Homo sapiens: one gene and its partners. The protein of the gene in region 2 purifies or fractionates together with the protein of the main gene of each other region. This does not show direct contact. Each region holds a gene or a part of one and is shown on either strand. Other genes may lie near its edges. The genes, in order: DET1, ETS2, IMPACT and ANKS6.

Region 1 (4,298 bases), on a different chromosome or scaffold from region 2:
AGCCATCACAGCTGATATCTCCAGGTGCTATCCACAAACTGCCACTCTTAACTCTTGAAGTAAATAAATAATCTTTGCTGGCAGGACTATGCTGAATCTCCTTAGGCACTCTCTAATCAGATATCCTGAGTCATCCCAATTCTTAGACCTTTTATACCTGTTTTTCTCCTTTTGTTATTCCATTTGGTTTCTCAATTCATCCAAAACCATATCCAGGCCATCACCAATCATTCTATATGACAAATGTTTCTTCTAACATCCCCACAATATCACCCCTTACCACAAGACCTCCCTTCAGCTTAATCTCTCCCACTCTAGGTTCCCACGCCACCCCTAATCCCGCTTGAGGCAGCCCTGAGAAACATCGCTCATTCTCTCTCCATACCACCCCCCAAAAATTTTTGCCGCCCCAACACTTCAACACTATTTTTATTTTTCTTATTAATATAAGAAGGCAGGAATGTCAGGCCTTTGAGCCCAAGCCAAGCCATCGCATCCCTTGTGACTTGCACATATAAGCCCAGATGGCCTGAAATAAGTGAAGAATCACAAAAGAAGTGAGTATGCCCTGCCCCACCTTAACTGATGACATTCCACCACAAAAGAAGTGTAAATGACCGGTCCTTGCCTTAAGTGATGACATTACCTTGTAAAAGTCCTTTTCCTAGCTCATTCTGGCTCAAAAAGCACCCCCACTGAGCACCTTGCGACCCCCACTCCTGCCCGTGAGAGAACAAGCCCCCTTTGACTGTAATTTTCCTTTACCTACCCAAATCCTATAAAACAGCCCCACCCTTATCTCCCTTCGCTGACTCTCTTTTCGGACTCAGCCCACCTGCACCCAGGTGAAATAAACAGCTTTATTGCTCACACAAAGCCTGTTTGGTGGTCTCTTCACACGGACGCCCATGAAAGTGACTGCACCCATCCCAGCAGCAGTGTATGAGGCTTTTGATTTCTCCACCTCCTCACCAGTATGTGATATCTTCCTTTTAAAGATATTATAGCCATCCTAAGGGGTATGAAGTAGTATCTCATTGTTTTGATTTGCATTTCTCTGATAATTAATGATGTTGAAGGTCTTTTTGTTAGGGAAGCAGGAGCCTACGAGAGCCAGAGTGACATCATTTTAAAATCAACTCCATCTTAAAACTAGCAAGGCAAATTCCCTGTTAGTCAGAGATGATCAATACAATCTCAGTCTTCAAGGTGCTCGCCATCTAGAAGATAACAGAGTAGGAAGTTTCTCAGCATCTAATCAATAGGTGAAAAATTAATTCTATTCATATTTTTTCAAATGTGCCCAGCAGGTGCAGAGACACTGCCATTGGGACTCACAGAGATTGCCAGGTTAGGTGCCATTTTAATTTTTCCTTCGGAGCCATGGAGCCTCTACGGCTTCGATCCTTCCTCCGGGCACAAGGGTGCGCTGTACCTGTCTCTTAGTGTTGGCTGAACAGTGCCGTGCTCTCCCCTACTTCCCTTTTTGCTGGGCCGCAGTTCCGGTGGCTGGCGGAAACGGGAACGTGCAGCCGCGGGTGCAGGAGTCCTGGGGCATGGCGGGGGCGGGGCAGGGGGAGGCGCGCACAGAACAGGCTGGGGCATCCCTCGCCCTGGCTCTTTGAGCCCGGACCAGACAGGTGAGGACTTACCATTTTTGGCCCAGCCTCCAAGCCCGTCAGACCCTCCCCGGCAGGCTCCTCCCTGCATGACGCTGATGCCCAGAGGCCCCGCGGCCCCCGCCCTCCCTCAGCATTCTCTTCCCTTTGAGGCCCCGCCCCAGGCTTTTCTTTCCGGGGGCGCCCTTTTGGGTATGTGTGCCCGCCCCTTGGCATCCCCTTCTGGTTTAGAGGCCGTCGCAAGGAATTGAGGGACATGTGCACCTTCTCCCATAGGGAAACTGAGACCCAGCAAGGGTAAAGGACTTAGTACCACACAGTGAGTTAGTGTGTTGTACCCAGGGGTGTTAGAGAAAACGCCACACTTTGAGACGAATTAAGAGTCCTTTATTAGCCGGTGACCGAGAGACCGCTAACGCTCAAAATTCTCTCGGCCCTGAGGAAGGGGCTTGATTAACTTTTATACCTTGGTTTAGGAAGGGGAGGGGGGGTCTAGTTAAAACAATTTTACAGAAGTTAGGTAGTCAAAAAGTTAAAAGGATAAATGGTTACAGGAAAGTAAACAGTTCCAGGTGCAGGGGCTTTATGACTATTACAAGGTGATAGACGTGGGGCTTTGGGTGTTATCAATCAGATGAATTCTTGGGGACTGTGGATATAGCTTGCCACAGTATCTTATCAGTTAATTGCATTCTTGGATGTGCTGGGAGTCAGCTTGCACAAGTTAAGTCCTTGAGGAAGGGGCTGCCAGTGAAAGAGCCAAGATGGAGTCTGTCTGGCTCTCTTAGCTAAGGGAGAGTCTAAAAACAGAGTTAGTAAAAACCAGGTTGGGCATTACATTCCCCACTTGTGTTTTTGGGGAATCAAATCATTGATTCCTCAGTTTTAACAAGGGGAGTCTTAAGATACATAAGTTTGACAGAAGCTATGCATTGTTTTACAAAATTAAGAAACCAATTTAATATACAAGGCCTAAAAATTAAACTTAATAGTATGATGAGGAGAGGTCCAGCTAACCCAGTGATTAAAGTAGTTAGCCAGGGGTTCCAGTGGAACATGTTTTGATACCAGGGGATGTTATTTTCTCGTTCCTGTTGTTGCCTATCTAGATATTCTCGAACTTTTTGGAGGGTATCTTTTATGACTAAGAATGGTGGAGGAACAGTTAAATCAACTTTGTCAGGGGGTTTCTGGAACATAGGGTCACCTAGAGCAGTTAAAGGCCCGATTGGCTTGGGTGGGCTCCATGAGACCAGGATTTTTATTTCTATTATTTATTTATTTATTTTGGATGGTGAACATAGTCCCAACATCAAATCCTGGAATATAAAATGTTAATTTCCATGACATGCCGTAATATTATTGTAAGAGGATTACAATTTTTTTTTTAGTACATAATTTAGGATGAGAAGCACGAGTTACCGAATGAAGATCTGGTTGATCCCCCAGAGTAGGTGGCTAAGTTTACACATGTCCAATCAGGGCAGAAAAACTGATAAGTATCTCGACAGCTAGCGTCAGGGTGATTCCCAGGACAGAGGTAAAAGTCAACATTTTGGAGTTCTTTTTCTGCACCTTTGGCACTTCCACACATCCAGTTTGGCTCCCAGAGCACCCAAATCCTGCTACAAGGTCGACACTTCCTGCTTTTGGGACAAGCAGATTGTGTTGCTCTTCGTGGGTACAGGCTGGCTTTGGGAACAGTATACATAAAATCAACTGCAAAGGAGACTTCCTTAGAGGTACCGGCCCTCCAAGTGGTGTTTGCAAATACACGTCCTGACTTAGGCACAGTTTTAGAAGGGGCCTGACCGAGGCCTGGGGACCCCTGTTTTTAGTAGGGCTCTGTTGGCCTTTTTGATGCAGGAGTGATGAATCTAAGCAGGAATGCCATCCACCTTCAGAGCCATTGGCGTGAGGATGACGGTGTGAAGTCTTTTCAAAGCAGGAGTGAGTCCTTGTTTCTGAAACTTTTTAACAAACACTAGTTCTCCTGGCTGGAACGAATGGCAGGACCCCGTCTGGTTAGGAATTGGATTGGGATGGTTTCCTTGAACAAGTGGCAGGGTGATATCTTGTACCTGTTGGGGAGATTGTAGGTACTGTAATAAATTAGCTTGTGATATTTCTGCCAGTTGGGCATCTCTTAGCTTAAGCAAGATAGGCGGCGCCCTCCCATACATGATTTTAAAAGGTGAGAACCTAGCCTGATAAAGGGTGCACCTTACTCTAAGTAGGGCTAAAGGAAGGAGACTTACCCAATTTTTACCGGTTTTTAAAATTAATTTTGTAAGAGTGTCTTTTTAGGGTGCGGTTCATGTGTTCTACCTGCCCAGAGCTCTGGGGTCGATAGGCACAATGGAGCTTCCACTGAATGTTTAACGCCTAACTGACCCACTGAGCTATGGACGAGGTGAAGGCAGGTGTATTATCACCCTGCGGCAGCAGGCAGCCCATATTGAGGGATGATTTTATTGAGTAGGAACTTAACTACCGTATTGGCAGTTTCATTTTTGGTAGCAAATGCTTCAGTCTATCTGGAGAAGGTGTCTACTAGTACTAGAAGCTATTTGTACCTAGCCCGGTGTGGTTTTACTTCTGTAAAGTCAATTTCCCACTTTTCTTCTGGCGAGTTTTCTCAGAGACGGTGGCCTAGGCTGGGTTTAGAACCTTGCTTGG
Region 2 (4,641 bases):
ACAGAATCAAGTCAGCAAGCAGTCTGCAAGCCTAAGGAAGAAAAAGAGCTGACCCATCCGGCTCTGGATGGATAACTGGCAACACCCAAGATGTCTATGATTTTGGCCTTCTGTTTGAGGCTTGTTTATTTCTTTAATCAGCAGCTACCAGGACTTATTTCATGCAGAGAAATGACATAAAGCTCTAGAGGAAGGAGCATTTCACATTGGAAGGAGTAGTGAGAAGGGCCTGATCTGATAATATCAGGATGGGTGGGAAGGGTCCATTCCTCATCATTCATGTTCTCCCGGCACAGAGGACTGTGTGGAGGACTCAGGATTTAGGACCATACTCAACTGGGGTTTGATCTCCACTTTGCCCTGCGGTGGCCCCTCTGGTAGCTATGTGGATCCTGGGCAGATTGTCCATGTTGCTGGGCCTCCGTTGCTTCACTGTATGACGTCTGCCTCTCAGGGATGCAGGAAGATTCAATTAGGTAGGAGTGGATGGTCCCCCAGCACGGGGCTTAGCTCTTAGTAACTAGGCATTCTGGCAATGGCAGCCATCAATAGGAGAGACTATTGATTGTTGAGTGAATATAAGTGGCATAATCCACCAAGTGGAGATTCTGAGTGAATGTGGCCACTTTGGACCCAAGACTGCTGCCCCTCTCTGTCCTCTCATAGGACTATTATTTATTGCCAGTGCTGACCAGCCTTTGTTGGCTACCATGATCATTACCTGCACTCCGAGTGTTTTAACAGAATTTTCTGATGCCTCTGGCCTCACCTGCTGCCTTTTAGCCAAGAGGGGTGTGTGTGTATGTGTGTGTGTGTGTGTGTGTGTGTGTTGGGTGTGTGTTGGGTAGCAGGGTTCTTGGAAGGTCTGGTTTAGCCATAATGTTGATCATAAAGAGAAAACAAGAAAATAAATGCAAATTAAATAGTTCGGTGAGCCTTTGTTATTTCGCCACATCCAGTAAGTTCTATCAGTTGAATGTTGTCTGAATTACTTAAAAAGTTCTCAGTTGTAAACAGGTAAGAGCACCCAGTGGAGGCCATGGAGCTAGGCTTAGAGCTTTGCCACCAGCCTTCAGTTCCATAGCCATGAACCTGGGAGGGCAAGGAATCACCCTAGAGGTGAAGGCCATTCATCGGTGCTAACCCAAGGTCTCTGAAAATGAGTTTTAGTTACTCTATTATCTAAGTATCTTTCTTACTGATATGTAACTTACCTGGCTGAACAATTACATTTTAGAGCTCCAAATAAATTTTCAGCCTATTATGTCATTGTCCAATTACAAGCCTCATTGTAATAGCCATGTTAAAAACAATAAAGCCGGTGAAATTGATTTCAGTGTATTTCAAATTAACCTAATATATTCGAAATATTATGTATGTATAAAAATTATTGAGCTTTTTTCTTTTTTCCACTAAGTCTTTGAGAGCTAGTGTGTATGTGTGGATTTGTACTAGCCACTGGTTGAGAGCTCTGTAGCCACACATGGCAAGTGGGTACCATATTGCTTAGCCCAGGCCTAGTAGAAGATTAAGACTCAGTCAGAGGAAGTAAGGCAGATCCGTGCTTGGAATCAGTTCCTCTTGAAGAAGTGCACAGCCAAGCAACACACAAAGCAGAAATATTTTGAGCTCTGTATTCAAAGCAGGAAGATCTGGGACCATGTAAGGGGGTTTGGTCTTCAGTTCTCCCTTTGATCCCTTCCCTGGGTGTGTGCTTTCTTACAGCCTGGAGAGTGGAAGGGAAGAGAGGGGGCTTCCTGGACTCCTTTCCTGTCTCTAGAAATGACCCCTGCAGCTGTCCTGAAGCTCTCAGGTTAAGCTGATTGTGTCCAGAGCAGACAGGAGGCGGCCCACTGCCCCACTGTACCCACCCAAGCACTCACCTAAGCTGGCCATGGAAATGTGAATGAAAAGCCTGACCCAGGCCCTCTTGCCCTGCTAACCCAGCAAGGAGGCTCTGACCAGCCAGCCAGCAAGTGACTTTTTCTGTGACATCTAAGTGGAATTCAGTGAGGAATCAGCATTATTATTCAATCACTGAAACAGCATATCCCATTGTGATACTGAGAAATGCTTTCCTCTTGAGACCTTTGGGAGGACAGCCATTTAAACAAGAATTCCCTGCATTCACTTTTGAATTACCTGTTAGCTGTAGAACTCAGCCAGGATCAAGTCTTGATGCCACCAATGATGAGTTTAGTGTACTTAATCTTTTGCCTCTTTGACTTTTTTTTTTTCTTTTTTAAGATGAATGATTTCGGAATCAAGAATATGGACCAGGTAGCCCCTGTGGCTAACAGTTACAGAGGGACACTCAAGGTGAGTGGGCAAGTCTTAATTTTTTTTTTTAATTGGAAAACTCGATCTCTAGGAGGAAAGAAAAAAAAGGCCTGGGTCCCAGAAAACTGGTTGTAGCCCTAGCTTCTTAATTTATTGGCCATGTGACTATAGACTATTTGCTTACTTGCTCTGGTCCTCAGTTTTCTGGTCTGCAGAATGGGTATCTTGATGTGTGTTGTTCTTCTCCTCCACGATATGAAACCAAAGGCCTTTATAGCTTGTTTTCTGAGGCTCCTTCCAGGTGAAAATCCTATAACTCCCAATAAAACAGCTGGAGAGGCTGTCTCTACTGCCTTTTCTGTCTACCCAGGAGTTTCCTTGGTTGATGGGAAGCTGTTTAAGAACTGAAATGAGAGAGAAGAGGCAGACAGACCCAACCGCTACAGCTCCTATCAGAAAGGGCAGCGCCCGTGGAATTGTAGGTAGCCTGTTACTGGCTCAGAGAACAAGCAGGCCTACTTATGTTAAACCAAAAACCAGATGAAAAATGAAAGCGCCCTCTCTGCTGCATAAACATTTTATGTAGCTTCTATCATCATTCCTTTTGGGAACATTCTTTAGTAGCACAAACTGGTAATCTCCCACTTGTCTTCTCCAAATATGACAGCAAGATTTGATTGTTTTCAGTATTATGTAGTAAACATGTTTCAGAAGCATGATTTTAAAATTGGCCTCCTCAAAGTTTAGCGTCTTGCATAATGATGATGTACGTCTCTGGCATATTACATTTTCCTTTGTATATCATTATTGAGGTTATTTGTCTGATATGACCCAAAGAGGCAAAACTCAGCACAGTCCTTTCTGCAGTATTCTAAAGGTCATCAAACTTCAGCCTAGTGAGTCTGCTTGTTTGATTTGGCCGGACATTTTAAGCATGGCAGAAGTGGTACAAGAAATCATGGTATTAAGTTGAAACCACACCCCTTAGAAAAATCCTTCTATTAATTCAAATAATTTGACGATGCTTATGCGGTTTCTGAAAAGAAGCAGTCGTTGCTGAAATTGATGTGTTGAAATAGGAAGCACAGATTTGTATTGTCTTTTGGCTTCCTGGCTTTAAAAAAAAAAAAAAAGAATTTACGGTTAGGAAAGGCATTTCTTAGTCACCTGGGCAATGCTTGTGGGAACTTTAAAAGTTTATTGGAGGTTTCACCAAAATTAGCTCTGCTCTAAAGTAGTTTGTAAATCCAGATGAGTAATTTGCACTTGCCTGATTGATCGGTTTTCCTCGTAGATCTCAGGCAGTTGGTCATCATTGACTTGGATTTTTTTGGGCTGGGCTCCAGCCTCTGCCTGCCCTCTTTTGTAATGCGTCATTCATTGTTCTGCATTTCTAAAAAGAAAGCGGGTAACCGATTTTATTTGTAAATGTGTTACACATTTTCTTATTGATGACTCAACAGATGGGTCATTGTATTACACATAACATGGGATTTCCAGCTTATGTTGGAAAAATATAGTCTTTCTTCACGTGTTCCTCAACAATTTAGGCGATGATGAATCCAGATATTATCGGTTACTTTCAAATGAGTCTTACATTAAAAGGTATTTCTTTCATAAATGTTATGTAAGATGCTCAGAAATCGAGTTAGTGTAAGGTTTTATCTTTCTGTGTGTCTCTTCTTTTCTGCAGATAGTTTAGTTTAACTTTAAACCTATTTCCTTTGGAAATCTTTCCCCTTAGTAGGTGATTTGGGTTTTTTTTGTTTTGTTTTATTTGTTTTTTCGTTTTTGGTTTTAAGCAACAGGGTCCTTCTCTGTTGCCCAGGCGGGAGTACAGTGGCTTGATCGTAGTTCACCGCAGACTTGAACTCCTGGGCTCAAGTGATCCTCTGGCCTCAACCTCATAAAGCACTGGGGTTACAGGCATAAGCCACCCCGCCTGGCCTGGGGGCGGGGAGGGGGTTCATTTTTAAGACACTTTACTTGTTATAAAATGAAACGTTAAGGAATTTTGTCATGTATTACTATTTTCCAAACCATTGGAATTGATGTGGAAAAGCATCTCTAGTTTCAGTTAAATTGTTTCATGGCAAACATTTCAAAATAAATGCTTCCAAAGATAAAGTAGTGTATTTCATTGTTTGATTTTTCAGTGTTTATCGGGTCATTTGCCTTTTAACTGCATTGTGCTCAGACGGCCTTGTCAAGGGTCATTTTTCTTACACACACAGCCTAGTTGAATTTTTCTCAATGTAACAGGAGGGTCAGGTGTTTGGTAAAGGGGTCTCTGAGGCTCCTCTCGACACCATTGTAAGATTCTGTTATTTTCAGATTTGTGTATTTAATATATTAACTTAA
Region 3 (8,324 bases), on a different chromosome or scaffold from region 2:
CAGCTCACTGCAACCTCCGCCTCCCAGGTTCAAGCAATTCTTGTACCTCAGCCTCCTGAGTAGCTGGGATTACAGGTGTGCACCACTACGCCTGGCTAATTTTTGTATTTTTAGTAGAGACGGGGTTTCAGCATTTTGGCCAGGCTGGTCTTGAACTTCTGACCTCAAGTGATCCGCCTGCCTCGGCCTCCCAAAGTGCTGGGATTACAGGCGTGAGCCACCACGCCTGGCCTTTTGTGACAACTTTTAATCATATTTTCCATATAATTCCAGCAGAGGGCAGCAAGGGGGAAATACAGGTTTTTAAAAATTAAACATGGGCCAGGTGTGGTAGCTTTTGTCTGTAATCCCAGCATTTTGGGAAGCCTATGTGGGAGGATTGCTTGAAGCTAGAAGTTTGAGACCAGCCTGGGCAACATAGTGAGACCTTCCCCATCTCTATAGAAATTAAAAACATAAAAATTAACTGGGTGTGATGGGGCGTGCCTGTAATCCCAGCTACTTGGAAGACTGAGGTGGAAGGATCACTGGAGTCCAGGAGGTCGAGGTTCAGTCACTTCACTCCAGTCTGGGTGATAGAGTGAGACTCTGTCTCAAAAATAAATATATAAAAAGTAAGCCTGTGAAGAAGGGAAGGGGCTCTTTAGAAGAGCAGTCAGTAACTCAGGAGGGATATAGTGGAGGCCTTTATTAAGGCAAAAAGAATATGAATGGAGAAGAAGGTCAGTTAAAGAAATACTTAAAAATATATTGGCCAGGCGCAGTGGCTCATGCCTGTAATCCCAGCACTTTGGGAGGCTGAGGCAGGCGGATCACCTGAGGTCAGGAGTTCGAAACCAGCCTGACCAATATGGAGAAACCCCATCTCTACAAAATTAGCTGAATGTGGTGGTGCATACCTGTAATCCCAGCTACTTGGGAGGCTGAGGCAGGAGAATCGCCTGAACCCGGGAGGCAGAGGTTGCGGTGAGCTGAGATCGTGCCATTGCACTCCAGCCTGGGCAACAAGAGCAAAACTCTGTCTCAAAAAAAAAAAAAATATATATATATATATATATGTGTGTGTGTGTGTATATATATGTGTATTATATAAGTGTATATATATGTGTGTATATATATGTGTATATATATGTGTATATATATGTGTATATATATGTGTATATATATGTGTGTGTATATATATATATAAAAGCTAGGATTTGGTGATTAATTAGATGTATATTTAGTTGTTGTACCTACTTTTTTTTTTTTCTGAGGTGGGGTCTATCTCTGTTACCCAGGCTGGAGTGCAGTGGCATGATCATGGTTCACTGTAGCCTTGACCTCCTGGGCCCAAGTGATCCTCCCACCTTAGCCTCCTGAGTATCTGGGTTTATAGGTGTGCCACCACTGGCTAATTTTTGTATTTTTTTGTAAAGAAGGGGTCTTGCTACGTTGCCCAGACTTGTCTGAAATTCCTGGCCTCAAGTGATCTATCTGTCTCTGCATATCAAAATGTTGAAATTACAGGCATATGCTACTGTGCCCAGTCCTTAATTTTTATTTAAATATTTTGCATGTGAATATTTTGAATAAATGAAAATAACTTTTGATAAAACAAAAAGTAAATACACTTAAAATACTTAGAATATGATACTGTTTAAGAGAAAATGAAAAGGATTACAAGTTTTTTATAGTATTTGACTTTGTGATGCTCTATTATAGCAATATTTAATTTAGAAATCTGAGAAAATAATTTTTGAAATTTTCTACATCTCTTCACATTTCGATGTATCATGGCATGTTAGGTTTTAATGTTGGTGAGTGAGGCTTCTTGAATCAAAAATTACACTGGATAAAGTCAAACAGACAAGGAAGACTGTATTCAAGGCCGCTGCAATAGGGGAAGGAGGCCAGAACTAAGTGTGAACTCAACTCCTCTGAAACAAAAGGCAGAAGGGTTTTTAAGGGCCAGGATGAGCTAGTGGAAAAATACTGAAAGATATTATGTGGGGCAGTTAATCGGGTGTGTTGGGCATATTGAGTTATTGTTGAGTTTGCAAATATTTCTCTTTGTGAGTAGGCCATCTGTGTTTACTAATAGGTACCCGTTGAAGTTAGCCTCCTATTCTCCCACAGAGACTGGAAGATAAGGGCAGTGTCTTCTTTGATGCTGTGTTTCAAAGGGATGGTTTCCAGGTCCTTGAGAAAGACATTTCCTGGGTTGTAAAACCAATTAAAGTTTTCTGTAAAAAGATTTACATATATCTCAAAGAGATGGAGAAGGAATTTACAATGACAAGTTTTCTGAAGAAAATGCTCTAAGAAAAGGGAGGTAAGGGCCTAGAGTCAGGAATGGGCCCATATAAAGTTTAGTCGAGCTGAGGTTAAGGCTGTTTCAGTCAGGCTTTTGGAGTCAGTTTTTTAAATAGTGTCATCTCTTTGTGTCTGTTTTCTCATCTGTAAAAAGGGGATAATATTGTAAGCATTAAACTAGCAGCTATCATTTTTTTGTTCTTTAAAAATTTTATTTTTTTATTTTTTTGAGATGAAGTCTTGCTGTGTCGCCCAGGCTGGAGTGCAGTGGTGCAATCATAGCTCACTTCAGCCTCCAAACTTCCAGGTTCAAGTGATCCTCCCACCTCAGCCTCCTAAGTAGCTGAGATTACAGGCACACACCACTGTGCCTGGCTAAGTTTTTTAATTTCTTACAGAAACGGAGTCTCGCTTTGTTGCTCAGGCTGGTCTCAAACTCTTGGTTTTAAGCTATCCTCCTACGGTGCTGAGATTACAGGTGTGAGCTGCCACATCTGGCCTGTTTTTTTTTGTTTTGTTTTTGTTTTTGTTTTGAGAAGGGGTCTTTTTCTGTTGCCCAGGCTGGAGTGCAGTGGCACGATCTCCACTCACTGCAACCTCCACCTCCCAGGTTCAAGCAATCCTCCCACCTCAGCTTCCTGAGTAGCTGGTATTACAGGCACGCACCACCACATCTGGCTAATTTTTGTATTTTTTTTGTAGAGATGGGGTTTTGCCAAGTTGCCCAGGCTGGTCTCGAACTCTTGAGCTCAAGTGATCTGCCCACCCCGGCCCACCAAAGTGTTTTGATTACACCACGCCCGGCTCTGGGATGTTCTTATTTCAAAAATCTTCTCATCCAGCTTATAATATTGAAAATTAGGTGACAGAAACTCAGATCAAGTGATTAGTTTAACTTCACACAGCTTAGTGCATTTTAGTGAATAGCTTTACTGTTATATCAACCAATACAAGTATTTAGTTTTAGTACTAGGAATTGTGGGTGTGATGGGGAGGATTTGAGGGTATAGAATTATTTAAAAACAATGTTGTTTTCTTCTGTCTCTTGTTTCGAAAGTTTTGGTGGGTGCTGATGAGTAGTGATAAAGAGAGATAATGGTTTCAAGGGAAACTTTTAGAGGAAGGAGGTGAGGTGTTGCTATATAGTAGTGTGGTGATATCTTTAAACACATACCATACTTACTACAATTAGTGTCTTTTTCTAAAGAGCAGACACTTGGGCCTTTATTTTATTGCTGCTACCATCATTTAACATAACTATGGACATGACTTTAAAACCTGTGACACATTCTTTTTCTCAGTGATCCTTTGAGATGGATTTAGTTACCTGAGGCAACCAAACATCATTTGGAACCAAAATGAATCAATTTAGGCAATAGAATGTTTTGTCAGAAACAAGATATGAATATAAAATTGTTGAATTGTCTTTTAGGTCTTGTAAATTGACTCCCTGAAGGAGTTTCCCATATGCTTTACATTCTTTCTTGTTGAGATAAGTATACTAAATGATAAGTGTACCAAATAAGGGGTTTGAAATTCTTAAAAAACTTTAAAAAAGCAAGCAGTGATCAGACATCGATACTGAAAGATTGTATCCACTTACAGAAACTAAGTCACATTTATATTTCTTTAATCCATCTAGTTTGGAAATGTTTATTCCCCTCTTTGGTTACAGCTCTTCTGCTTATTTTAAAGTAAGCCATGTTAATTTTGGAGTCAACTGGAATTTTTAACGTTGCTATAACCTGTATTAACTACTCAGACACAAATGTTGATAAACCCCAGGTTTTTATAAATTATTTTAAAAAAGAAATGGTTAGATTGTTTATAATGTCTTGGATTGCAAATGTCTGTATCTTCTTGAATTTGAGAAGATGATTTTTGAAATAACAATTTTTTTTTTCCCCTGAATTTTGTTTAGTCAGAATATCGGTGAAAGTATTCTTTACCTGTGGGTGGAGAAAATAAGAGATGTTCTTATACAAAAATCTCAGATGACAGAACCAGGTAGGATTGAAAAATACTATCAATACTCTTTTAACTTATAATAACTACATTTTTATGTAGATACTCTAGTTGAAATTTAATGTGAAAATCTGTATTCTGGTTTATGGTTTGTATATTATAAAATACAAGTTTCTCTGAAAAGTTTAATTGCTCATGTAATTATAGTTATTTATTTCTATAAGGTTTAGCCTCTTTGATTTTGTATTACAGTATTCCTCCTCATCTGAGATTTGGCTTTCCATGGTTTCAGTTACCTGTGGTCACCTGTTGTCTGAAAATATTAAATGGAAATTTCCAGAAATAATTCATAAGTTTTAAATTGTGTGCCATTCTGAAAATGTTATGAAACCTTGGGCTGTCCCATTCTGTCTAGGGTCTTGTCTAGGATTCTACATTGCTTTCCATTGTTGTTTCTCTTTACTCTCCTTTAGTCTGTAAACAGTTGTTCAGTGTTTCCTTGACTTATAACCTTGACACTTATGAAGACTACTGATAGTTATTTTGTAGAATGCCCCTCAATTTGGGTTTGTCCATTGTTTTCTCATGATTGGAGTGAGATTAGTAGCTGGGAGTGGTGGTGTACTCCCAGCTACTTTTAAAATTTTTTCTACAGACGAGGTCTCCCTATGTTGCCCAGGCTGATCTCAAACTCCTAAGCTCAAGTGATCCTCCTGCCTTGATCTCCCAAAGTGCTTGGATTACAGGTGTGAGTCACTGTGCCTATTGTATCATATGCCTTATTATTGGTGATATTTACCTTGATGTCTCGGTTACGGTGGTGTTCGCCAAATGTCTCCACTGTAAATGCTGTAGTCAGGGTTCTCCAGAGAAACAGAACCAATTGAATATATGTGTGTATATACATGTGTGTATGTACCCACACACAAAGAGAGAGAAATATATTTTAAGAAATTGGCTTATACAGTTGTGGAAGGTGGCAAGTCCAAAATTTGCAGGATAGGCTGGCAGGCTGGGGACCCAGGGAAGAATGAATGTTGCGGTTTGAAAACAAAGATGGTCTGCTGGAAAAATGTCCTCTTCTGGGGAGGTCAGTCTTTTAATGTTAAGGCCATCAGCTGATTGGATGAGGCCCATATGGAAGACAGTCTGCTTTACTCAAATTCAACTGACTTAATTGTTAATCTCATCCAAAAAATACCTTCAGAGAAAAATCTAAAATAGTGTTTAACCAAATATATGGGTATTGAGGCTGGGCACAGTGGCTTGCACCTATAATCCCAGCACTTTGGGAGGCCGAGGTGGGTGGATCACCTAAGGTCAGGAGTTCAGGACCAGCCTGGCCAACATGGTGAAACCCCGTCTCTACTAAAAATACAAGAATTACCCAGCACGTTGGGAGGCCGAGGCGGGCGGATCACGAGGTCAGGAGATCGAAACCATTCTGGCTAACACGATGAAACCCCGTCTGTACTAAAAATACAAAAAATTAGCCGGGCGCGGTGGCGGGTGCCTGTAGTCCCAGCTACTCGGGAGGCTGAGGCAGGAGAATGGCGTGAACCCGGGAGGCGGAGCCTGCAGTGAGCCGAGATCGCGCCACTGCACTCCAGCCTGGGCGACAGAGCGAGACTCCGGCTCAAAAAAAAAAAAAAAAAAAAAAAGAATTAGCCAGGCGTGGTGGTACGCACCTGTAATTGCAGCTACTTGGGAGGCTGAGGCAGGAGAATCACTTGAACCTGGGAGGCGGAGGTTGCAGCGAGCTGAGATGGTGCCACTGCACTCCAGCTTGGGTGACGGAATGAGACTCTGTGTCAAACAAAAGTAAACAAATATATGGGTACTGTGGCCTAGACAAGTTGACATGTAAGATTAACCATTGCAGTCACTGTCTTTCTCTTTGTAGCTTGAGGGAGATACTTTGAAGCTATGCTAATATCCTGTTTCTCCTTAAACTTTCTGCCACTAATTTTAGTATCTATCCATGGAACTTGTCAACAATATTTATTACTGTGGTGTTTGCCTGATGATGATTTTCTATTTTCTTCATTCCTTCCTCATTTAGTAATTGGAATTCTATTATGAGGAAGGGATGTCTCTTCCCATTTATGTATTTATTTATCTGTTTATTATTTATATCAGTATGGACTCATGTATATTATTTCAGTCCATGGGTTAAAATGCCATCCTATCATATTTTTTTGTTGCTCAAATTGTTCTAGCTTTGACCTTTAAGAGCCCCTTCAGGTTAACTCCTGTGTTCTTTTTATAAGCCCCATCTCTTTTTGAGCATTTCCCAGTTTGTGGATCCACATGAGGTTCCAGGTTCATCTTGTAGTTTCCTTGCTCCAACTCAGGAATCAACCAGTTCTCCTACGGGCTGAGTGCTGGTTCCTTTCGTTGAAGAGTGGTATTTAGAACCCAAGACCCAGTGATTTTTTTTTAAAAAGCATCGTTTCTTACCTGCGTCATAAAGTAATTGTGTCTCATATTCACATAGGCCCAGATGTAAAGAAGAAAACTGAAGAGGAAGATGTTGAATGTGAAGATGATCTCATTTTAGCATGTCAGCCGGAAAGTTCGCTTAAAGCATTGGATTTTGATATCAGTGAAACTCGGACAGGTATAATGTTACTAACTAATTTCTTTTGAGGAGAGTGGGTTGGTAGTATTATGTATTGTTCTTTGAGATGATAGAGAAATTTACTAATTTTCTCCAGTTTTAGGAAGGAGTTATTAATTTGCAGATAAGATTAATTTTTTCCTGCCTGTTGGCAATTTTGGTGTTTGCCAAGTCTTATCAGAATGGCAAGGAAAAAATGGAAATTTACTCTTTTCCCCCTACTTTCTAGAGTTTTGATTTAGTGATGGAAGAAATTGAAACTAAGAAAGGCTATTAACGTTTTTAGTTAACATCATGTTTTTATATTTCTGTATTGAAATCCTTAGCTGTTTCCTGATGTTTCAGGATTAAATTTTAGTCTGTGCTCACAAATACAAATATATTAACTGAAAGTGCAGCCCTGGAAATTAAAGCTAGTAAAATGCCTTTAAGAGGTTTTTTTTGAGAGACAAGGTCTCGCTGTGTTGCCCAAGTTGACCTTGAACTCCTGGGCTCAAGTGATCCTTCTACCTCAGCCTCCGAGTAGCTGGGACTACAAGCATGCACCATTGTGCCCAGCTTGAGTTCAGTTTTTGTTTGTTTGTTTGTTTTTTTGAGATAGAGTCTTGCTCTGTTGCCCGGGCTGGAGTGCAGTGGCACGATCTCAGTTCAATGCAACCTTGCCTCCCAAGTTCAGTGATTCTCCTGCCTCAGCCTCCTACGTATCTGGGATTACTGGCACATGCCACCATGCCTGTCTAATTTTTGTATTTTTAGTAGAGATTGGGTTTCGCCATGTTGGCCAGGCTGACCTCAAATGACCTACCCACCTCATCCTCCCAGAGTGCTGGGATTATTATAGGCGTGAGCCACCACGCCCGGCCTAGTTTTCGTTTAAACAAATTTGTTTCGTAATCGAGTAGTATTCAACATAAAAATAGGTTGCTGTGATATTATGTTTCATTTTAATATTTTAAAATTTTGAATGTTATTGTTAGTTTCCCTAAGCCTCTTAGGAAAACATGGTAGACCAGGGGGAATATTCATTCTGTTTGAAGGTGAGGGGTTTCCTGTGTCATTACACAGTAGCTTTTAAAAGGTGCTCTGAGTTTTAAGGCTTTTGAATGGTGTCCAGGACTAGTAGAAGGGAACAAAGAGGAAATGAAAGAGTGGGGAGCATCCAGGGCTCTCATTTATGCTCTAGCCTAAGTAGCTCCCATTTTAATCATTTATTTGTGTGTGGATTTGACATATGATATCTTTTGAAAACAGGATCTACCATGAAAAGAAAAAGGATAAAAATCATACTCATAAATAAATACTATCAATTGGTCAGTAGTTCATATTGACCCTAATACTGTATTTGACTTATTACTATGTTAGTACAGCAGTCAAAATCAATTCAGGAAAAGAACAGTATCAGAGGGAAGGTGTAAAACATCTTACATAAACCTACTTTCTTGTC
Region 4 (8,324 bases), on a different chromosome or scaffold from region 2:
GAACCTGCCTTCCCTTCCTGGCTTGGCGTTGAGGGTGCTGCGAGACCCAGGCAGAGTCCCCACCCAGGGCATTGGTGGGCAGGCCAGGCAAAGGAACGAGCTTGACCGGAAAGGTTTGAGTAGCTGTGGGGCAGGTGACCCATTTTGGAGACGTGGGGGAAGGTTTCTGGTAGAAAAGATGTTTATATCCACGTGGAGACCTGCGGATACCTGAGAATTAGCCAGGACATTACAAGTGGGCTGTGGGAAGGCATGATGGGAGGCCCATGCAAAGGCTTGGGTGCACGAGCTGGTAGGACTGGTAGAATGAGGTATGCGTAGAATGTATGAGTAGAATGATGTACTAGTCCTCCCTGGAGAGAAGGCAGATGCCAGGGAGTTGGGGGAGTGTGGGAGCTGAGAAACGCTAGCTATCCTAGGGTGCTAGGGAGTCATGGAAGGTGCTAGGGAGTCATGGAAGGTTCTAGGCAGAATGAGTGACAGGATGAGAGTTACGTTTTGGAAAAATTACTTTCCTTGAAGTGTGAGAATAGATTAGATACTCTAGGGTAAGCTAGAGTCAAAAAGGCTGGTTAGGTAGAGTTTGCTGCAGTCTGAGTGAGAGGTGATGGTGGCCTAGACCAGAATGGAGACAGCGGAGGGAGGGCACCCAGATGAATTTGTGATATATTCAGGGAGTAGATCAGCAGGAGTTGACGACTGGCCCTTGGGGAGGGGTTAAGAGAGACAGCAAGGATGGCATCTAGAGATCTGGCTTCTGTGAAGCCTGCCATGATATCTCCCTGTTCTCTGGTCCCTCCGCAGCAGAAAGGCCTCTGTGGTAGCATCCATCACACCATGTTAATGCTGACTGGCTTCCTCAGTACCCAAACCTGGCCACACATCAGAATCACCAGGATGCTTGTCTAAGTGCAGATTCCTGAGTTCCTTTTCTGGAGATTGTGATTTAGAAGGCCCAGGGCAGTGAGGGGAGTAAGAGACAGGGACTCTGTGTGAGAAGAGGCTCCCCAGTGATTCTCTTGTATGGTAGGTTTGGGAGCCACTGATGTGTTATGTGTGTCTCATCTCTGCAATCCACCAAGTGCGTGCACAGGGGCCCTGGTGAGCCCCCTGAGGAATTTACTGAGTGAGGTTTGTGACTACAGCACTGACATGCCTCAGAGTGTCTCAGAGACCCCAGATCATCAGTTTTAACCAAGTTCTGCAGGATAGTCTTGAGCCTGGGTATTTTAAAATGTGCTGTTCCTCAGTTGGTGTGACACCGACTCTATATTCAGGTAGCATCTCTGCCTGTGTTGAGTTGTGCTCCAGCTTTCTGCTGCGTAATTCATAAGAAAAGGTCAAGTTGAGGAGTAGTATATATGGAAGACTTCCAGAAGGATGTACAGTGTGTCTGTCCCTCACATCGGGGTAGGCAAATGAATGGCCTGTGTGCTGACACCTTCCAGCCTTGTGCTCTTCTTCCTTGGATCTGGATACGCCCCCAGAATCCTGCTCAAAACCACACCCCTGGCAGCCACCACGCTGGGTCTGAGCAAGCATCTATTTATCGTCCCAGCTCTCTGTGTGGATCAGGCCAGACTATTAGACACCCTGTGCCTTTGGTCTTTTGTGGGTGTTTTAGTATTAGAAATGGTGACCTTAGTGTTTTTTCCTGTTCTTTTTTTTTTTTTTTTTGAGACGGAGTCTCGCTCTGTCACCAGGCTGGAGTGCAGTGGCGTGATCTCGACTCACTGCAACCTCCGCCTCCTGGGTTCAAGCGATTCTCCTGTCTCAGCCTCCGGAGTAGCTGGGATTACAGTCACGTGCCACCACGCCCAGCTACTTTTTGTATTTTTAGTAGAGACCGGGTTTCACTGTGTTGGCCAGGCTGGTCTCAATCTCCTGATTTCGTGAAACGCCCACCTCGGCCTCCCAAAGTGCTGCGATTACAGGCGTGAGCCACCGCGCTGGGGCATGTTTTTTCATGTTCTTAAAATAATAGGTAACCTTTGGCCAGGTGCGGTGGCTCACGCCTGTAATCCCAGCACTTTGGGAGGCCGAGGCGGGCAGATCAGGAGGTCAGGAGATCGAGACCAGCCTGGCCAACATAGTGAAACCCTGTCTCTACTAAAAATACAAAAATTAGCTGGGCGTGGTGGCACGGGCATGGTGGCACGCACCTGTAGTCCCAGCTACTCGGGAGGCTGAGGCAGGAGAATCGCTTGAACCTGGGAGGCGGAGGTTGCAGTAAGCTGAGATCGCGCCACTGCACTCCAGCCTGGCGACAGAGCGAGACTCCATCTCAAAAAACCAGAACAAAACAAAACAAAAAACAACCTTTATTGAGCACTGACTTTCTGTCAAGCACTGTGCTAAGTGCTTTAAATGAATTAAGTCATTCAATCCATACAAAACCTTAGGAAGGAGGTACTATTGTCATCCTCATTTCATAAATGAGGAATTGAGGAACAGAGAAGTTAAATAACTTGCTCAAGTAACATAGCTACCAAGTGGCGAGTCAGATTCACACCTAGGGAGGTGGCTCCAGAGCCTGTGCTCCCAGCCATGAATCCTGTAACTGATAGTTTCCCTCTTGGTGTTGGTGCCTGGAAGCGGCTTGCCAAATTTGCCAGAGACTTCTCTCCAAGGGACAGGGTTGCATAGTGTTTACCTTCCTTCCCTACCCTTCATTTCCTGCCTGCCAGTGGGGCAGAGCTGGACTCTCAGCCCAGTGCTTTGAGAGGGGAAAATGTGTGCCAGCTCTTTAAACACAGGTGTTAATTGCTGAAATTCATCAGTAATCACAGCACCTGTTCAGAAAGCCCCTAGCATGCCCATCTCCGGCAGTTACCTATTAGAAACTTAGCATCCACAACATTATCTCAGCCTTGCTTGGATCCTTTTATATTTTCAGCATAGTTGAGTGCTCTCTTGGGCTACTCACTAATTCAGAAAACATTCCAAATTTCACTATTTCTGCTCTAATTCACCCCTTTTCTTCCTCCTTAAAAATTGGTTATACTGGAGCTTCGATTTTGAGTCCAGGTGCAACTTTTGACTCTATCACGTTCAAATTGAGAGGCTTTAGATTAATTGCTTTCCACTGTAATCTTCAGTTTCCTAATCTGTGAGTTTATCTCGGGGTTTATTAAGATCAAATGAGATAAAAATGTGACGCACCTTGTAATCTGCTGTTAGGGATTATGCTAGATTTTATCTCATGCTTGATAACTAAATAGTGTAATCTTTTAGAAATGTACTACAGTGGAGGATACACCAGTTCTTCAGGGATTTCCACTGCTCACCTCTGGACCTTCCCCTATGTGGTTATGCCATTTATGCATTCATTTACTTGGCTTGTTTGACCAAATTTACTGAGCTCCGATGTGGATCAGCCACTATGGTAGGGGCTGGGGAAACAATATGCGTGGAACCCTGTCCTGTCCTTGGAGAGCCTGCCACTGAATAGGAGAGACAATTAGGGAAAGAGGGCTCACGTGCAGCCAGAGGCGAGCCCGTGGAATTAGGTGCTCAGAAGAGGGGCACTGACCTAGCCTGGTTGAGGGGTGGTCTGGAAGCTGCTCAGAGTGGGTGAGATATGACTCCTGAAGCAGGACACGGTGGGGGTGTGCTGAGTAGATGAGGACAGGAGAGTCCTCTGGTGGGGTCAGGATGGTGAAGGTGTGGGGAAGGCGGGAAGGTGTGGTTTGGGAGCAGGAGGAAGTGAGGTTGGCAAAGCAGTCAGGTCTTCGGCAATCAGAAGCTGGGGAGTGACAGATTTGGGTTTGGAGAATATCATTTGGGAGTCGCATGGAGGATGGGCAGGAGGGAACGAGACTGGAGGCGGGGAGACATTGGGGTGCAGCTTTCTGCATTGAGTTGGTTTCAATTTGCCTTGTCCTTTTCCACTCTGGGAGTGGAGGTCAAGAGGCCCAGCCCCCTGCAGCTGATGGAGCTGTGTCACCAGGCTCTTGCTTCGTGGCTGAGTAGCCCCATGCTGTTCAGGTTCACATCCCAGAAGGTATTCAGCCGGAGCCTCAGACAGAGTTCAGCCCTGGCCTGGCCGCCAGCCGCCAGGAGGAGGGAGGTCTTGGGTTTAGATGAGGTGCAAAACTGGCTCCCGGGAAGGAGGGCTGAGCATCGAGAAACCCAGAAAGCTGCCTCACAGATGCAGACATGACAGTGGCTTTGTGGTCTCGAAAACCTGGAGTAGACAGCCCCTGTCTTGTCATTGTTTTCTTGTTAGTCCAGGGCCGCTTCCAGCTTGGAGATACACAGCTCCGAGCCCACCAGAGACACCACAAAACAGAACTTTTCTGCCCTCTGGTGTTAAAAGAAGGAAGAGATTTTGCTGGGAAGAGGTACCTGTTTTCCTTCTCCTGGTACTAGGAAGTTGGTGGGTGCAGATCTTTCTCTTCAGGGGCCCAGCAGTGACTTCATTGAGGAAGATCTGGCCTAGGCTGGGTCCTCAGCCGCCTGCAACAAACATTCCTGCCAGCAGGTGGCAGCAGGCCTCCAGGCCGCAATGCCCAGCCTATCTGCTGACCACAACCTTGCCACACCTCTTGGCATGGGGTGTGTGCTTTTGGGGATGGGGAGGGTAGAAATGAATCAGACATGGGCTCTGCCTGTGGGGAAATTAGAGCACAGGCAGAGAGACAGATTCCCAGGCTATAAAGCAGAATAAAATCGACTGTCTGAAATGTAGGAGGCAGCATGGTGTAAGAGAAAAAGCAAGGGCAGCGGCATTCACACAGACCTGTCCTGACCCTGATGCCACCCCTTACCAGCCGGGTAACCCTTGGCACGTTGAATAACGTAACATGAACAATTATAATACCTAACAATCGCTAACATTGATGTGATGTTTCCTGTGGCCAGGCACAGAGCCAGGTGCTTTACATGTAACTCATTTAATCCCCAACAACCCTTGAAGTAGGTACAGTTATATCCCCATTTTGCAGATCAGGAAATGAAGGCACAAAGAAATCAAAGTTCTTCCTAAAGGTCATGCAGCTGGTGGTGGGGAGAGCTGGATTTGAACCCAGGCAGGGCAGCTGCTCACCTTCATGATGATGCATCTGCATCCATGTGGCTGGCACAGTGCCTGGCGCCAGAATAAGACCTCTTATCATGAGCAGCTGTCAGGACTAATAATTCATGCCAATTAAGGATGACATAAGCTGGCCCCCGAGTGCTGTGTGTTCAGTGTCACTAATTCTCCATCTTCCTGGCAGATTTGGGCATGTGAGTGTGGCACACCTCCTGTTGGATCACGGGGCTGATGTCAATGCCCAGAACCGGCTGGGGGCCAGTGTGCTCACTGTGGCTTCTCGGGGCGGCCACCTGGGTGTGGTGAAGCTGCTCCTGGAAGCCGGTGCCTTTGTGGACCATCACCACCCTTCAGGCGAGCAACTGGGGTTGGGCGGCAGCAGGGATGAGCCCTTGGACATCACAGCCCTGATGGCTGCCATCCAGCACGGGCACGAGGCCGTGGTGCGTCTACTGATGGAGTGGGGCGCGGACCCCAACCACGCAGCCCGGACCGTGGGCTGGAGCCCGCTGATGCTGGCCGCACTCACTGGGCGGCTTGGAGTGGCCCAGCAGCTGGTGGAGAAGGGCGCCAACCCTGACCACCTCAGCGTGCTGGAGAAGACCGCCTTCGAGGTTGCACTGGACTGCAAGCACAGGGACCTTGTAGACTACCTGGACCCGCTGACCACCGTCAGGCCCAAAACAGGTCAGGCTGCATGCCCCCCGTGGCTTCACAGAGGACCCCAAATTGTGTTTATGTGGCTTAAGCTGAGGATTGCTCTACTGGAAGGACACGCAGAACTCAGAGTCCAGCCCTGCAGACCACTGAGACTGAGGAAGTGGTGTGCTTAAGTATCGGGGGGATTGCCTGTGACATGCAGGTTCTGGGCCCACTCTCTGCAGAGTGATTTGGTAGCCCTGGGCAAGAGCCTGGAAGCCTCTATAACAAGGCTGCTCTCCCCAAGCACATCATTCTGATGCAGGTGGTTCTGGGGCCCTTCTACAACAAGGTTTGGCAAACTTTTTCTGTAAAAGGCCAAATAGACTGTATGGACCATACAGTCTCTGTTAAAACTACAGTAGTCACTTCTGCTAGAGTGAAAGCAGCCTTACATATGTAATGAGTAAATGAATGGGTGTGGCTATGCATATAATATGTAAATGAGTCAGGTATGGCTAGGTTCCAATAAATTATAACTACAAAAACAAGCAGTGGGATATATTTGAGCCATGGGCTATAGTTTGCCAGCCCTTGTTCTACAATAGTGTGCCTGACCTCCTCTGCCCTGATCATTTCTCAAACACTAGTTCATGTAAAATTGATGAAAATTAGTTTTTTAAAAAACATCTAGCAGTGCATCTTTTTTTTTTTTTTTTTTTTAACTTCTTGCCATCTCTCTGGCATGTAAAGAGTTGTCTAAACAATCCTTAGCAAATCTGCCATAGGACATACCACGTTTCAAAACCTTTAATGCACGGTTTGCAATAAGATCGCAACACACAGCCTTGGTACCCTCTGTCTATGTAAAAGGCCTGACTTCGACGGCAGGACTCACAGCCAGGGAGTAACAGTAGGTGGGCTGCAGTGTATATAAACATCTAGCTCTGAGAGGTCAAGCACTGAAGAAAGTAGCTTCAGGCACATTGGCTAAAAAGACCTGAAAGTGTTAAGTTTGTTACCATTGAAAGAATATAGAATAGCCCCATCAATCAAGAGATGCTGAAAATTTGGTAAATGCTTATTAGAAATACACTCTCCAAAAAAAAAAAAAAAGAAATACACCATCCAATCAGAACAAGTCTGAAATAAACATGTTTTAAAAGCCTGTAATGACAGAGAGGTGGCAAAAATGAAGAGGATGCTCAAATGAAAAGGAAAAAGAAGTTTAGGAAGAACTACCTGAAGCCAAGAGACCTCTTACTTTGTCCAGGTGGGAAACTGAGGCCCAGAGAGGGAAGAAAGCTGGTCAAAGGTCACACACCCATTGGAAGCTGAGTGAGTGACACTCAGGAGGTGAGGATTCCATGGGAAGAGCACCTAGAGGTGATTCTCCCACCTGCAGCTCCTGCATGGGCTCTAGAAGCTGGTTTAACACATGACTCTTCTGAGCCTTTGCCTCATCTGTGAAATGGACACAATGACAACTACTACGGGGTGGTGGTGAGCAGAAGGCAGGTTATCCTCTGGCGTGTGAGATACTCAGCCCAGTAGAGTGTTAGGGACTCATAAAGGCTTGCTATTAGAAATTAGGGCCCCAGTCTCCTAGGACAGGGTTTTGTTTTGTTTTTGTTTTTGACACAAGGCCATTGCTCTCCTTTAAAGGTTTGGGTTGTTTGTGGCAGGGATGGGGAAAGGATCTGCCCTTCCCAGGCCCTGCCGTGCCCAGCACACCTGCCATGCTGAATCTCCCCTCACCCTCGCAGGGACCCTCTGAGGAGGGTATTCCCCCATTTTGCAGGGGAGGGAATTCAGGCTCAGAAGTGAACACTCCAGAACTTGCACCTGCCCGTGCCTGCCGAGCTGTGCCTCTTCTGTTGTGCATGCGTTCTCCATCCCAGGTTTCCTTAGCCTCTGCATCTTGAATCTTCACGGAGTGCCCTCGGGCTTAGCTTCTGACAGGCCTCATTTTAGGGGTTGTCCTGGCATCATGGGATGGCGATGCCCTCATTTCCCCAAGATGCAGTGGCTCAGACACATTGGTGGATGTGGCCAAGGTCACTGTCCACTTGGTTCGATGCTGGCTGTGCCCCTGCTGGCCAAGGGACCTTGAACCAGCTGCCTCAGTTCACCAAGCTCCCATTTCCTTCTCCACAAATGGGTGCTGGAGTGATACCCGCCTCAGGGCTGCTGTGGGGTTCATGTGAGATCCTGCCTGGCCCAGAGGGAGCACATGGGAAGTGGATTACTCCATAGTGTTGTCGGCGTTATTTGACAGGAGCGAACCTCGGGTCTTCCAGCAGGATCTGGTCATGTTCCCATTGAGCAGAACTAGTCTGAGGCTCAGTTCTCCCACTCTGTACCTGGGTGGTCTTGGTCATCTTAATTGGCCCTGCAGGACTACAGTGTCTTTTTTCATAAGATAGTCATAATAAAGGCTCTTTTCTTGGGAGATTTTTGTGAGGAATAGTAAGATCAGGCCTGTAAAATTTTCATCGCAGTGCCCTGGCACATAGACGACATCCAATAAATGGAAACTATTATGTTTTGATTGATGATACATTCATTCCGATACTTTACAAAGACGTACTGAGGCCTGCTATGTATCAGGCACCTTTCTAGGCACTTTGGATACATCAGTGAACAAATG

Evidence for each region.
Region 1: the proteins of ETS2 (region 2) and DET1 purify together in Homo sapiens (affinity purification with western blotting, with the first as the bait; one study listed by BioGRID). This does not show direct contact.
Region 3: the proteins of ETS2 (region 2) and IMPACT purify together in Homo sapiens (affinity purification with mass spectrometry; one large-scale study listed by BioGRID and IntAct). This does not show direct contact.
Region 4: the proteins of ETS2 (region 2) and ANKS6 purify together in Homo sapiens (affinity purification with mass spectrometry; one large-scale study listed by BioGRID and IntAct). This does not show direct contact.

What each region holds. Positions count from the first base shown.
Region 1 is NC_000015.10:88,543,882-88,548,179, reverse strand, and holds the start of DET1 (DET1 homolog), read left to right. Parts: upstream 1-1,498; 5' UTR 1,499-1,640; intron 1,641-1,804; exon of another isoform or gene 1,805-1,916; intron 1,917-3,485; exon of another isoform or gene 3,486-3,569; intron 3,570-4,298. UniProt on the Homo sapiens protein: Component of the E3 ubiquitin ligase DCX DET1-COP1 complex, which is required for ubiquitination and subsequent degradation of target proteins. The complex is involved in JUN ubiquitination and degradation.
Region 2 is NC_000021.9:38,807,788-38,812,428, forward strand, and holds part of ETS2 (protein C-ets-2), read left to right. Parts: exon of another isoform or gene 1-2,009; intron 2,010-2,247; coding exon 2,248-2,319; intron 2,320-4,641. UniProt on the Homo sapiens protein: Transcription factor activating transcription. Binds specifically the DNA GGAA/T core motif (Ets-binding site or EBS) in gene promoters and stimulates transcription.
Region 3 is NC_000018.10:24,433,739-24,442,062, forward strand, and holds part of IMPACT (protein IMPACT), read left to right. Parts: intron 1-4,216; coding exon 4,217-4,302; intron 4,303-6,757; coding exon 6,758-6,880; intron 6,881-8,324. UniProt on the Homo sapiens protein: Translational regulator that ensures constant high levels of translation upon a variety of stress conditions, such as amino acid starvation, UV-C irradiation, proteasome inhibitor treatment and glucose deprivation.
Region 4 is NC_000009.12:98,787,502-98,795,825, reverse strand, and holds part of ANKS6 (ankyrin repeat and SAM domain-containing protein 6), read left to right. Parts: intron 1-5,219; coding exon 5,220-5,722; intron 5,723-8,324.